3 linked regions of the Homo sapiens genome follow. The protein of the gene in region 3 purifies or fractionates together with the protein of the main gene of each other region. This does not show direct contact. Each region holds a gene or a part of one and is shown on either strand. Other genes may lie near its edges.

Evidence for each region.
Region 1: the proteins of FGF14 (region 3) and VPS13A purify together in Homo sapiens (affinity purification with mass spectrometry; one large-scale study listed by BioGRID and IntAct). This does not show direct contact.
Region 2: the proteins of FGF14 (region 3) and ANKRD44 purify together in Homo sapiens (affinity purification with mass spectrometry; one large-scale study listed by BioGRID and IntAct). This does not show direct contact.

Annotation. Positions count from the first base shown.
Region 1 is NC_000009.12:77,180,394-77,184,051, forward strand, and holds part of VPS13A (intermembrane lipid transfer protein VPS13A), read left to right. Parts: intron 1-3,658. UniProt on the Homo sapiens protein: Mediates the transfer of lipids between membranes at organelle contact sites. Binds phospholipids. Required for the formation or stabilization of ER-mitochondria contact sites which enable transfer of lipids between the ER and mitochondria.
Region 2 is NC_000002.12:197,304,185-197,307,842, forward strand, and holds part of ANKRD44 (serine/threonine-protein phosphatase 6 regulatory ankyrin repeat subunit B), read right to left. Parts: intron 1-3,658. UniProt on the Homo sapiens protein: Putative regulatory subunit of protein phosphatase 6 (PP6) that may be involved in the recognition of phosphoprotein substrates.
Region 3 is NC_000013.11:101,724,792-101,728,449, forward strand, and holds part of FGF14 (fibroblast growth factor 14), read right to left. Parts: intron 2,020-3,658; coding exon 1,821-2,019; intron 1-1,820. UniProt on the Homo sapiens protein: Probably involved in nervous system development and function.

The sequences.
Region 1 (3,658 bases), on a different chromosome or scaffold from region 3:
TCTCAGTCTTTTCCCATTTTGTCTTTTGCAGAGCATACATTTTTGATTTTGGGAAAAGCCCAGTTTATAAAACATTTCTTTTATGAATCATGGCTTTTGGTATTCATATCTAAGAAATCTTTTCCCAACCCAAAGTCAAAGATGTTCTCCTGTGTTTTCTTAAGGAAGTTTTGTAGTTTTAGGTTTTGGATTTCTTTTTGTATAAGGTGTGTGATATGTGTTGAAGGTTGAGGTTCATTTGTTTGCATGTGGATGCAAATATCCAATTGTTTAGCACCACTTGCTAAGAAAGAGGATCCTTTCTCTATTGAATTATCTTTGCATTTCGTAAAAAAAAAATCAGTAGACTTAATATTGTGTGGCTTTAGTCTGTCTCAATCTGTGTGTCTATCATTTCACCAATACTACACTGTCTTGATAACTGTGTCTTTGTAGTTAGTCTAGAAATCAGGTAATGTGATCCCTCTAACTTTAGTCTTTAACAAATAATTTAAAAAATAACAAGTCATTGTCCAGGTGTGGTGCTCATTCCTGTAATCCCAGCACTTTGGAAGGCTGAGGCGGGAAGATTGCTTGAGCATAGGAGTTTGAGATTACAGTGAGCTCTGATCATGCCACTGCATTCCAACCTAGGCAACAGACAGCGAGACTCTGTCTCAAAATAAAATAAAATAACATGTCAGTGTTTTATTTATAGAAATTGGTTATGTTTTGATAAATGAAACTTTAAATAATAGCTGGAGTATTTTTTTAAAATATTCTTTGAGAATTTCAAAAGTAGTAATTTGATAAATTTGGAGGATTTTTTAAAAACATTGTTTGAAAATTTCTGTAATAGAAACTAGGTGGCCAGGCATAGTGGCTCATGCCTGTAATCCCAGCACTTTGGGAGACTGGGGAGGGTGGATCACTTCAGACCAGCCTGGCCAATGTGGTGAAACCTCATCTCTACGAAAAAAATAAGATACAAAAATTAGCTGGGTACTGTGGCGCTCGCCTGTAATCCCAGCTACTCAGGAGACTGAGGCAGGAGAATCACTTGAAGCTGGGAGGCATAGGTTGCAGTGAGCTGAGATCACACCATTGCCCTCTAGCCTGGCCAACAGAGCGAGACCCTGCCTCAAAAAAAAAAAAAAAAAAAAAGAAACTGGATGCTGCATAGGAAAATTTTAAGATAATATTTTATGGTCTAACGTGAAGGACCTATTGGTAGTTGTAAATGTGTGCTTTTGCTAGGCTTCTGAAATAATCCAGCAAATTTCAATATTAGCATGTTACTATAATAGTATCAATTAGTATTCAGTCATTGCTAATAATGGATGGTGCTCTGAAAATTTGTTGCTGAGATGGATTCTTTGGAAATCAGAATGCATTTTTCCCATGGAAGCATTCTTATATATGAATGAGGACTTTTCCAAAAACCTGTTTAACTATAATGCAGCAGAAGAGTGCTACTGTACTGGGTTCAATACAGTAAGTAGACTCACTGCTAGAAGACTCTGTCTTACAGGGGATGAAAAAGGAATTGAGCTTCATTCCAGGACTGACTCTTGGCAAATTTTGATGTTGGTAAGGTATACTTTTTATACACTTCTATTTATAATTCTCCCTTCCCATATATCATCTAGTTAGAGAGGTGGTAATATTTCATAGACTCATCTGAAATTTATCTTCCCAACTTTCTCCAGCAATTTTCTTTTTCTTTTTCTTTTCTTTTTGAGACGGAGTCTCGTTCTGTCACCCGGGTGGGAGTGCAGTGACGCGATCTCGGCTCACTGCAACCTCTGTCTCACGGCCTCAAGTGAGTCTCCTGCCTCAGCCTCCCGAGTAGCTGGGATTAAAGGTGCCCACCATCATGCATGGCTAATTTTTGTATTTTTAGTAGGGACGGCATTTCACCACGTCAACCAGGCTGGTCTCGAACGCCTGACCTCAAGTGATCCACCTGCCTTGGCCTCCCAAAGTGCTGGGATTACAGGTGTGAGCCACTGCGTCCGGCCATTTCACATATTTTCTTTAAGAGCTAGGCTGCATCAGAATCAGCCATAGGTGCTTATTATGAATACAGAACCTGCCCCCAGAGATTATAAATTATTTATCTGGAGTAGGACATGAAAATATTTTTTTAAACAAATGACACTGGGGACTTGATGCACAGTTGGGTACATTTTAAGAGAACATTAAGGGGAAAAGTATTAGAATTTTAAATAGACAAAAGCAGTAGTAAAAGTGGCTTGTGTGATAGAATTATCATTTGTAACACAGGAAGTACCTGTACTTCATAGCCCCTTCTTAAGTTAGCCTCCTTTGTCTCTATTTTGTTTTCTCCGAAATCACAATACTTGGACAAATTTGTAATTTTTTTTTGATAATGCCTGACATCTTTATGTAACATTAGAAGTTCAGATTTCTTGTCTATTAACTAACATACGTATTCTGTTTTTGAAATGTTAATCTCCCAGTTTTCCCTTTATAATAGAATCATGTGTTTAGTGGCCACTTAGCTGGATACCGCCATGATACCAGAAGCAGTACAAAAGATGAAGATTCAGTTAGGATACAGTTTTCGATTTTTAAGGAGTCATTCTTCTGTGCCCAGAATACACTAGGGAGCCAAACAAATGATTCTTACAGTCTGGTGTTAATGACCAATTCTAATTCCTTATGTATTATTTTTATATTTATGTTCTAAGATACTTTAATAAAACTTTAAAGACTATGAAACATTTTATTATAAAAAGTGTTAGGAGATTTTACAGTGCCTCTCCATATACCCATTATCTAGATTCTGTCATTAATATTATGTATTAACAGCTTTATTGACGTATAATTAACATGCAGTAAAATACACGTTAAAGTCTACAATTTGATAAGTTTTAGCATATATGTGCATGCAGGTAACAATCATCACATGATAATGAACATATCTGTCATACCTAGAAGTTTCCTTGTGCCTTTTTGTAAACCGTATCTTCTAACCCTCCTTGTCCCTTATACCCTTCTTGTCCCCAGGTTTTTGCTGATTTGCTTTCTGTTACTGCATATTAGCTTGAGTTTTCTAGACTTGGATAAATGGGATTGTACAGTTTGTATTCTTTCAGTCTGGCTTATTTCAGCATAATTATTTTGAGATTCATCCATGTGGTAGTACAATCAATAATTTATTCCTTTTTATTGCTGACCATAGCAAGTGGTGGTGAGGATGTGCAAAAACTGGAACTCTGTTAATATGTCTCCTGGGGATGTAAAATGTTAAACAACTTGGGAAAACAGTTTGGCAATTTCTTAAAAAGTTAAACATACATCAACCATGTTATCAAGCCATTGTGCTTCTACATGTTTACCCAAGAGAAATGAAAGCATATGTTCATACAAAGATTTGCACACAGATGTGCATAGCAGCTTTATTTTTAATAGCCCCAAATGGGAAACAGTCCAAGTATCCACCAACAGGTGAATGGATAAACAAACTGGCATATCCATATAATGGAATACCATTAATATTTAACCACACATGTTTTGTCACATACCTGTCCATCTGTCCATCTCTCTATCCATGCAGCAATTCATATTATTAAATGTATTTCAGAATAAGTTGTAGAGATGAGCTCATTTCCTCCTAAATACTTCAGCATGTGTATCATTAGAGTGCAATATT
Region 2 (3,658 bases), on a different chromosome or scaffold from region 3:
AATCCCAGCTACCCGGGAGTCTGAGGCTCAAGAATCACTTGAACCCCAGGAGGGGGTCGGCGGGGGTTGCAATGAGCCAAGATTGCACCACTATACTCCAGCCTGGGAAACAGAGCGAGACTCTGTCCCAAAAAAATAAAAATACAGAATAAATAAAATGGGTAATCTTAGATTATCTATGAATTGAAGTAGGGTGGAGAATAGGAATTAGTCCTAAGTCATTGACATGGGTTAAAATCCTTCTCTGGAACTTGAAGCTGTTTGACTTTGTTACCTGGAAAGCCTTATTAGAGCTCATCTGCAAATACACCCTTCATAGGCACATTTGTAAGAAATGCTATAACACAAACCATGTGAAGAGCATCGGTCTCCATTACAGGCACCAAGTCACAGAAGGGAGAGGGCAGAGCTGAGGCACCATAAAGGCATCCAGTCCAACCTCTTCATTTTACAAAGAGAAACCTGAAGCCTACAGAGGTTAACATGTCTTGCCAAGGGTTGGCTAATGTACAACATATGTCACTTCTCCCTTCCCGTGTACCCATAGCAAACACTGGTAATCAATCACACTTTCTCGGATCCTTGACTGCAAGAGTCAGAATGTTTCTATCACATTACACCTGCAAGTCCTGGACCGATCAGAACTCATGTGTGACATGGAAGCTGTTTCCCAACTCTGCACAAGGTCATAAAACAATCTTTGTAATACCTGCACCACTGTAGACCTGACTCAAAAGAGACAGAGTAGTCTGCTAGTCAAACTAGTTTACTGTCACTGTCAAGCCTGTGGTGAGCAAACATGGAGTCTATGTGAATATATGATGACCACATATCCAGGTTTACCCAGGACAGTCCTGGCTCACGTCTATTTGTGGCTTCATATTGAGTAGTATCACCTATGATTCTCAAACGGATAAAAATGATATAGTCATCCTAGTTCTGTGTAGTTCCTAATCATTCACAAACATTTATAAATGTTGTTTCATACATGATGTGTCAGGAAAAAAAACAAAAACAACAACAAAAAACACTTAACCAATCACCAGGAGTTTTCTCATACAAAGGGGCTTTCAAATAATACTAAACCCAACCAGTTTTCAAGAGGGACTCAGGGACCACTGTCCAAGCCAATCTTTTTTATATATTGAGCTTCAATATGAAATTTCTTCGGGGGAAAAAAGGAGTGTCATAGCTTAAACAAATTTGGAAATCACAAAATTATCAGATCTCTGTAGCTCTGCCTGTTTTTAAATTATTTCGTGCTATACTTTAGCCTATAAAAATTCACATTATCTTGTAGAAATACAAATCTTTTTAAAGAATCTTTCATTTCTGTTTCTGGTACAAACAATTTGTGCCTTTTTGAGTTCGTATTTGCTCTCTGTTTACAGCAAAAGAGGAAGTAAAAAGTTGAAATCTTAAAAAAGAAAGAAAGAAAGAAAAGAAAAAGAAAAAAGTTAGTTCCATTAATCCAGAGCTAGAGCTTATGTGCTGGCGTTGGCTAAAGAGCCAATCATATATGTAAGAGAAGAATAAGTTTATTTGGAAAAGTCATTGGTGTAGAGAACACAGATATCAGCTATGTGCACAAGTGAAAGGTAATGATATTATCACACGAAAAGTTTAAAAATTTTAACTGGCTACCCAGACAGAAGACTAGAAGGAAACATATCAAAATGTCAAGAATAGTTATCTCTTGAGTATACAGGCTTCAGATGGTTTTAAAATTTTTTGGTTTGCTCATCTAGCTTTCTGCTTTTCCTATAATGACCGCAGTTCGTTTTATATATATATATATATATATATATGAAAAAAATCACTGAACTACCAACACATCATTCACCGGGGTGAGGAAATGGAGAGGCTAATGGGAAAAGCCAGGTATAAGCCAGGCAGGGGCAGAGGCCTCAGAGCAGCTCCTTACTATGTACAGAAATGGGTCTGGCCCAAGAGGCAGAAGGAGTTCAGGGAACGCTGTTCATCCAATGGCTTCTCTGTAAACAAGATCAGACACCCATTAATCCCATGGCTGCACTGCCCTTTCAACTATGAAAAGTATAGCCTTGTGGTCAGAGCCCCACCTGTGCAATCAGACTGCCAGGGTAGGACAGTGTGCTAGATCACTTACTGGGCGTATGACCCTAAACCGGTCAATTAGCCTCTCTATTCCTGTTTTCTCATCCATAAAATAGAAATCACACCACCACCTACCTCCTAGTGTGGCTATGAGGATTAAGACATGATTCACTGCAAAGGCCCAGTATACAATAAGAGCACAATAAATGTGTGACATTATTAGGTCTCTGCCATGAAACACCAGCCTCAAGTGCACTCTCAAAACCATGTGATTGGGTCCTGAAACAACCAGAAAAGGTTCTAAATAAAGCCTTTCTTTTCCCTTCTTCTATGCTGAAGACAGGACTACAGCATACTGTTTGCTTTAACACCAGTGCTCTAGGGAGCCATGGAAGAACAAGGGCAGCCCAGTAAAATATGTAACACGTCCCAAGGCCCCACACTATGGGCTAGAAATCCTGCTCCCAAAGTTACACAGGATTTCTAGTCTCTTGCCACTGCCACCGCTGCCAGCCACTGCCTTTGGCAAGAAGGTAGGTGACTCAAGTGTGAACTAGGACTTGGCAAGGGAACACCAAACCAGAAGGCCTCCAGGCAGGAAGCTCCAAAAAGGCCACCTGCTGAAACAGTTTGTCTGCAGGCAGCCTCCGAGATGAAAGTAGTGTTCTGCCATCATTAACAAATGCAGGTAAGAATAGTGGACACTTTAAACATGCAACAGAACTTACCATCCTAGCTTCATAACTCTGAAAATAAATTTCGGGTAGAGATCCAGGCTGAAGATACGACCACACACTTAAAATGACTACAGTGCCTTTAACTATATGACATAAAGAACACCCTAAAACAGTCAATATCAAATCAATTTTCAAAAAGGTTTCATGGCTATCTTTGAGTCAAATGCCTTAGATCTGTATTTAACAAAATTTTCTTTCCCAAACTTAAAATTATCTCACTTTACCAAAAAATATAAAACTCCTAATGTCCACATACAAGGAACTAATTACATTATTATATTAATGACATAGTTGAGGATGTTCTATGTTACACAGGGTAACCAGTTCCTCCCAGTTTGCCTGGAATTTTCCCGGTTTTAGCCCCATATGCTGGGACACCAGTCAATCTGCACAAACCAGGATGGTTAGTGCCCCCTAAGGCTGCAATAAAAATTATGTGTGCCCTGTGAAGAGGAAAACAGAAGGGACACTGTTACAAAAGTTACAAATGCAGAAGTGCTAAATGCCAAGTTTGTTTGTTTGTAGTGATAGCTCCCAGTTCCTTTTTTACAGTGAAAAAAAAAAAAAAAAGACTAAAAATTACACTGGTCTCTCCCTTTTTCTTTTTACTCTCCTGAAAAAAAAAGAGTTAGGAAAAAACATTTTCCTTCTCTTACAAGATTGAGAGGTCACTACAGGACTGACTGCTGAAGTAGTGTCTGCTTCACCTAGCAAGCTCCTGCACCCAGCTTTAGCTGGAGAGAAAATGTCATCATCTGTCACCCCTGACTTTTGCCACATTTAAAGACAAATCCAGACAATTTGTGTTTCAGGTTATCAACAGTAAAAAATCCAAGAGGCCTAGC
Region 3 (3,658 bases):
ACCTACCCCCTTAACTGTTTTTAGAGTACTTCTGCTAATTTTTTGAAAACATAAAAAGTATTATTTCTCTCTTTCTCATATATATATATGTATATATACACACAAAACACTCATATACACATAACAAATACATGAGTGAAATACCAAGTATCATTCTATACCACATCATTGTTGTCTCAGATATTTTCTATGAGATATGCAAAATAACTGGTTCCCAAATTTTACCTCGGTTAAATGACATAACAGCCCTTTTGGGTTTTGTTACATTTATGCAGCTAAAGGGTAAGGTTCTAAAAATCTAGTCAATTCTTAACTATTTACAAAACATAAAATGAGTGAAAAGAGATAAAGCACGGTGGCAAATAAACAATGGTCTTATTAGAGCTTCTGTGGGCTTATTTTTTAATTTTTTATTTGCATTTAAATATAGGTGAGTCCAATGTTATCAAAATTTATTTAAAACAATGAAAGTGTATCATGGATGTGTTTTTTTTGGGAGGAACAGGGAAATCCTCTAACTTCTTTCTACTCTAATCATCCTTATGATCCACCATATACTGAGAATAATTCACTCATATTTCAGACTCTGGAATAATCTGTCTTTTCCTGTATAGGCCCTGGTAGCTAACTGTTTGGGTTTCAATAAATTGTTCTACAGAAAAATATAATTAAGAGTGACACTAAGTCAACATCATTGAAATTACAGAAGTAGTATTAGCCAACAAGAGCGATTTTCTGAATTTAGGCAAATTGAAAATTATACACTCACAGATGATGAAGAATTGACTGTTCAAATTTTTAAATTATTTTATTTCAATATAGAGAATATGCATTATGAAAACAATATGCATTTTCTCGTGATGGCTAAGCCTTTCCTGTAGGAATAAAACACAAAAAGAAAATTGAGCTGTCCAAGCTAGCTTAAAATATTTACTGAGTTATTGTAGATCTGATCTTCTGCAAAAGAGTAAACAAAAGAACTTGAATAGAAACACATGTGAATATCCTAAAATCAAATATTTTTGTAATTCTCAAATGTTACATAGATAAAAGTAAATGACACTTTTGGCAGAATCATTAATGAGAGAGGTGCAGATGTTGTTGATTAATTAAAAAAACTTTGTAGCCTGCTCTTTGGGTATCTGATTGGAGTAAATGTGAAATTTCCATTCATCCGGCATGGATGACTGGATATACCCCTTCCTGCACACAAATGAATGTGGATAAATTATTTTAGTAAAAGAAGTAATGCTACAAATGTATACAGTGAAGAATTACACAATTTGAAAGCAGATGTGTAATATCAGCAAGTTCTTTAAGAGTCAAGCTATTATCTCTTATTTTTCTGTAATTATAATAATCCACAAGTAGGTAATTACTTTCACCTAGATAATATCAAAATGGAAAATACTTTTGATTCCACGCTCAAAACTTATTTTTTCTAATATACTTATTATCTTTTTCTAATATACTTATCATCGCAGATTTGTATCATTACAGATTTAAAATTGTTTTAACTTAATTAATTTAAATTATCTAAGGGTTAGAGTGGTTGTAGCAGTGAGGATTTGAGCCTTTGGAGGTGGCAGAGAAGAAATTTTTCCTGGTACACATACATACACAAATATAGTAAAGTGTATAAGGGGCACAAATTCTAAATCAATAACTTAAGTAGGCACCTGTGCAACCATCACCTAGATCAAAATAAATGACATTTCCAGCACTTTGTGAAGGTTTCTTAGAGCCATGGTAGACCTATCAATTTGAAAAATAAAATATGTAATAAGTCTATGTAATAATAATGCATGCATAATACTCACCTTCCAATGGCTTGGGTAGAAAATGAGCTGCTGGTTTGGTTTTCTTTACTCTGTTCCCTTTCATAGCTTGCCCTTCCTTATTTAATCCCAAAAACCAGGCTCTACCAGATTCCTGTTGTCTGTACAACATGGATGAGTAGATTACATAATAATTTTCAAAAACAGATTCTTTAAACTTGCATTCAGGGGTAAAAAGTTCCTGTGGAGAGAAAATGAAACAAAAGTTAGAGGAAGGAACTTGATCTTCACTGTACATTCTACTCATTCTCTAGAAAGTTTCCCAGCATGGTGAAAGAGTGCTTTGGCATGGAGGACCGGATATACCCCTTCCTGCGCACAGTAATTGTCTATACATTTTTAAAATATACAATAAATTGAGAAGAACCTACTATTATTGAAAATATATAGAAGCAAAAGTATATCATAAGAAAACAATACATGAGCAAACTAAAGATTTAACTTAAACAGAAGACAATTCAACCAGAGTATAATCAGAAAGGGAGCATTAAAGTAGCATCAGATATTCACAATAAAGTGAACCAAATAAAATACACATTTCAGATATTTTATAATCCATTTTACATGTTTCCATAGGAACAGTGATATAATACTCTACAGTTGCCAGTTGCTCCTTGGATCACTGAAATCACAGGGTGATACATTTTACTTACAAAGGAACAAACTGAAACCTCAAACTAAAACTTAGACAATCAGCTGGCTTACTTGCCAGCCACTAGAGCTATTGTATAACCAGATGAGGTTAGGTGTCATGTTAGCTGGTCATAGTGACAGTAGCTGAAAATAATTCAATGGGGCTCCAAAGGTTTGAGTCCCGTTGGAACTCTTGAAGATAAACATCAAAAGCTGCTCCAACTGAAAAACCACACAGCATTTTTGGAAAGCATACAGTTTGTTAAATACTATTATGCTCAATGCCATGGTCTGCATTAATTGATGAGCAGCACAAAGCTTACTACTTTACAATTATTATTAATGTCAGAAATATTCACAGATGATTTTTATATACTTCTTACTTTGGGATGAATAATAATGAATATAATCCCATGCCAAATAAATAAAAAATTAATAAGGGTACAATCTACATATGCATTTTTGATAGCCCTCTATTAAAAATAAATTTGAAGTTCAACCTGTCTGGTTATAGACCATGAAAGACACCTAGCTAGTTTTAAATAGGTCCAACACTGTGCTATTCTATATGTATATAAAATATAGATGGAAAATAGATCCTTACTGTCCTTGATCTTTTTGAAAATACCACTGGACTAAAAAATATACACAAAGTTTTCATTTTTCTTTAATAGATTTTATTATTGCAGAAAATAATAATTTTTGGTTTTCTTCTAAAAATGTTGTATACCTGTTCTGAAAAATATTCCTTAGGGGCTAAAAACTAAAACATTAAGGGCTTGACTTTATGCTAACTGTAATTAGGAATGTGACCTAATGTCATGTAGAAATTTCCTTTCAATATTCCCCATAAAAGTGTGAATTATCAAATGCTGTCTCATGCAGGAGACAATTTATTCAGTGTGCTGAATAACTTTCATTCACTGAGAGCTAATAGTTTTCCAAGGGGAACAGCCTTTGTTAGTGGCAGATGCTTTTCAAGACAAAGATGACAGTTACAGTGATCAATTTGATGAAATCACAATAGCCAAATGACAGGTTTAGCCCCCTCCTGGAGCAACTTATGTAGATCTTTATTTCTTCTTGATGATGCTACCTCAGATTAGAATAAGATCCCATCCAAATAAATGTTCTGGCTTTCTACTGAGTTCTGCATCTCCATATATCCTCCAATTAGTTTTCTCACT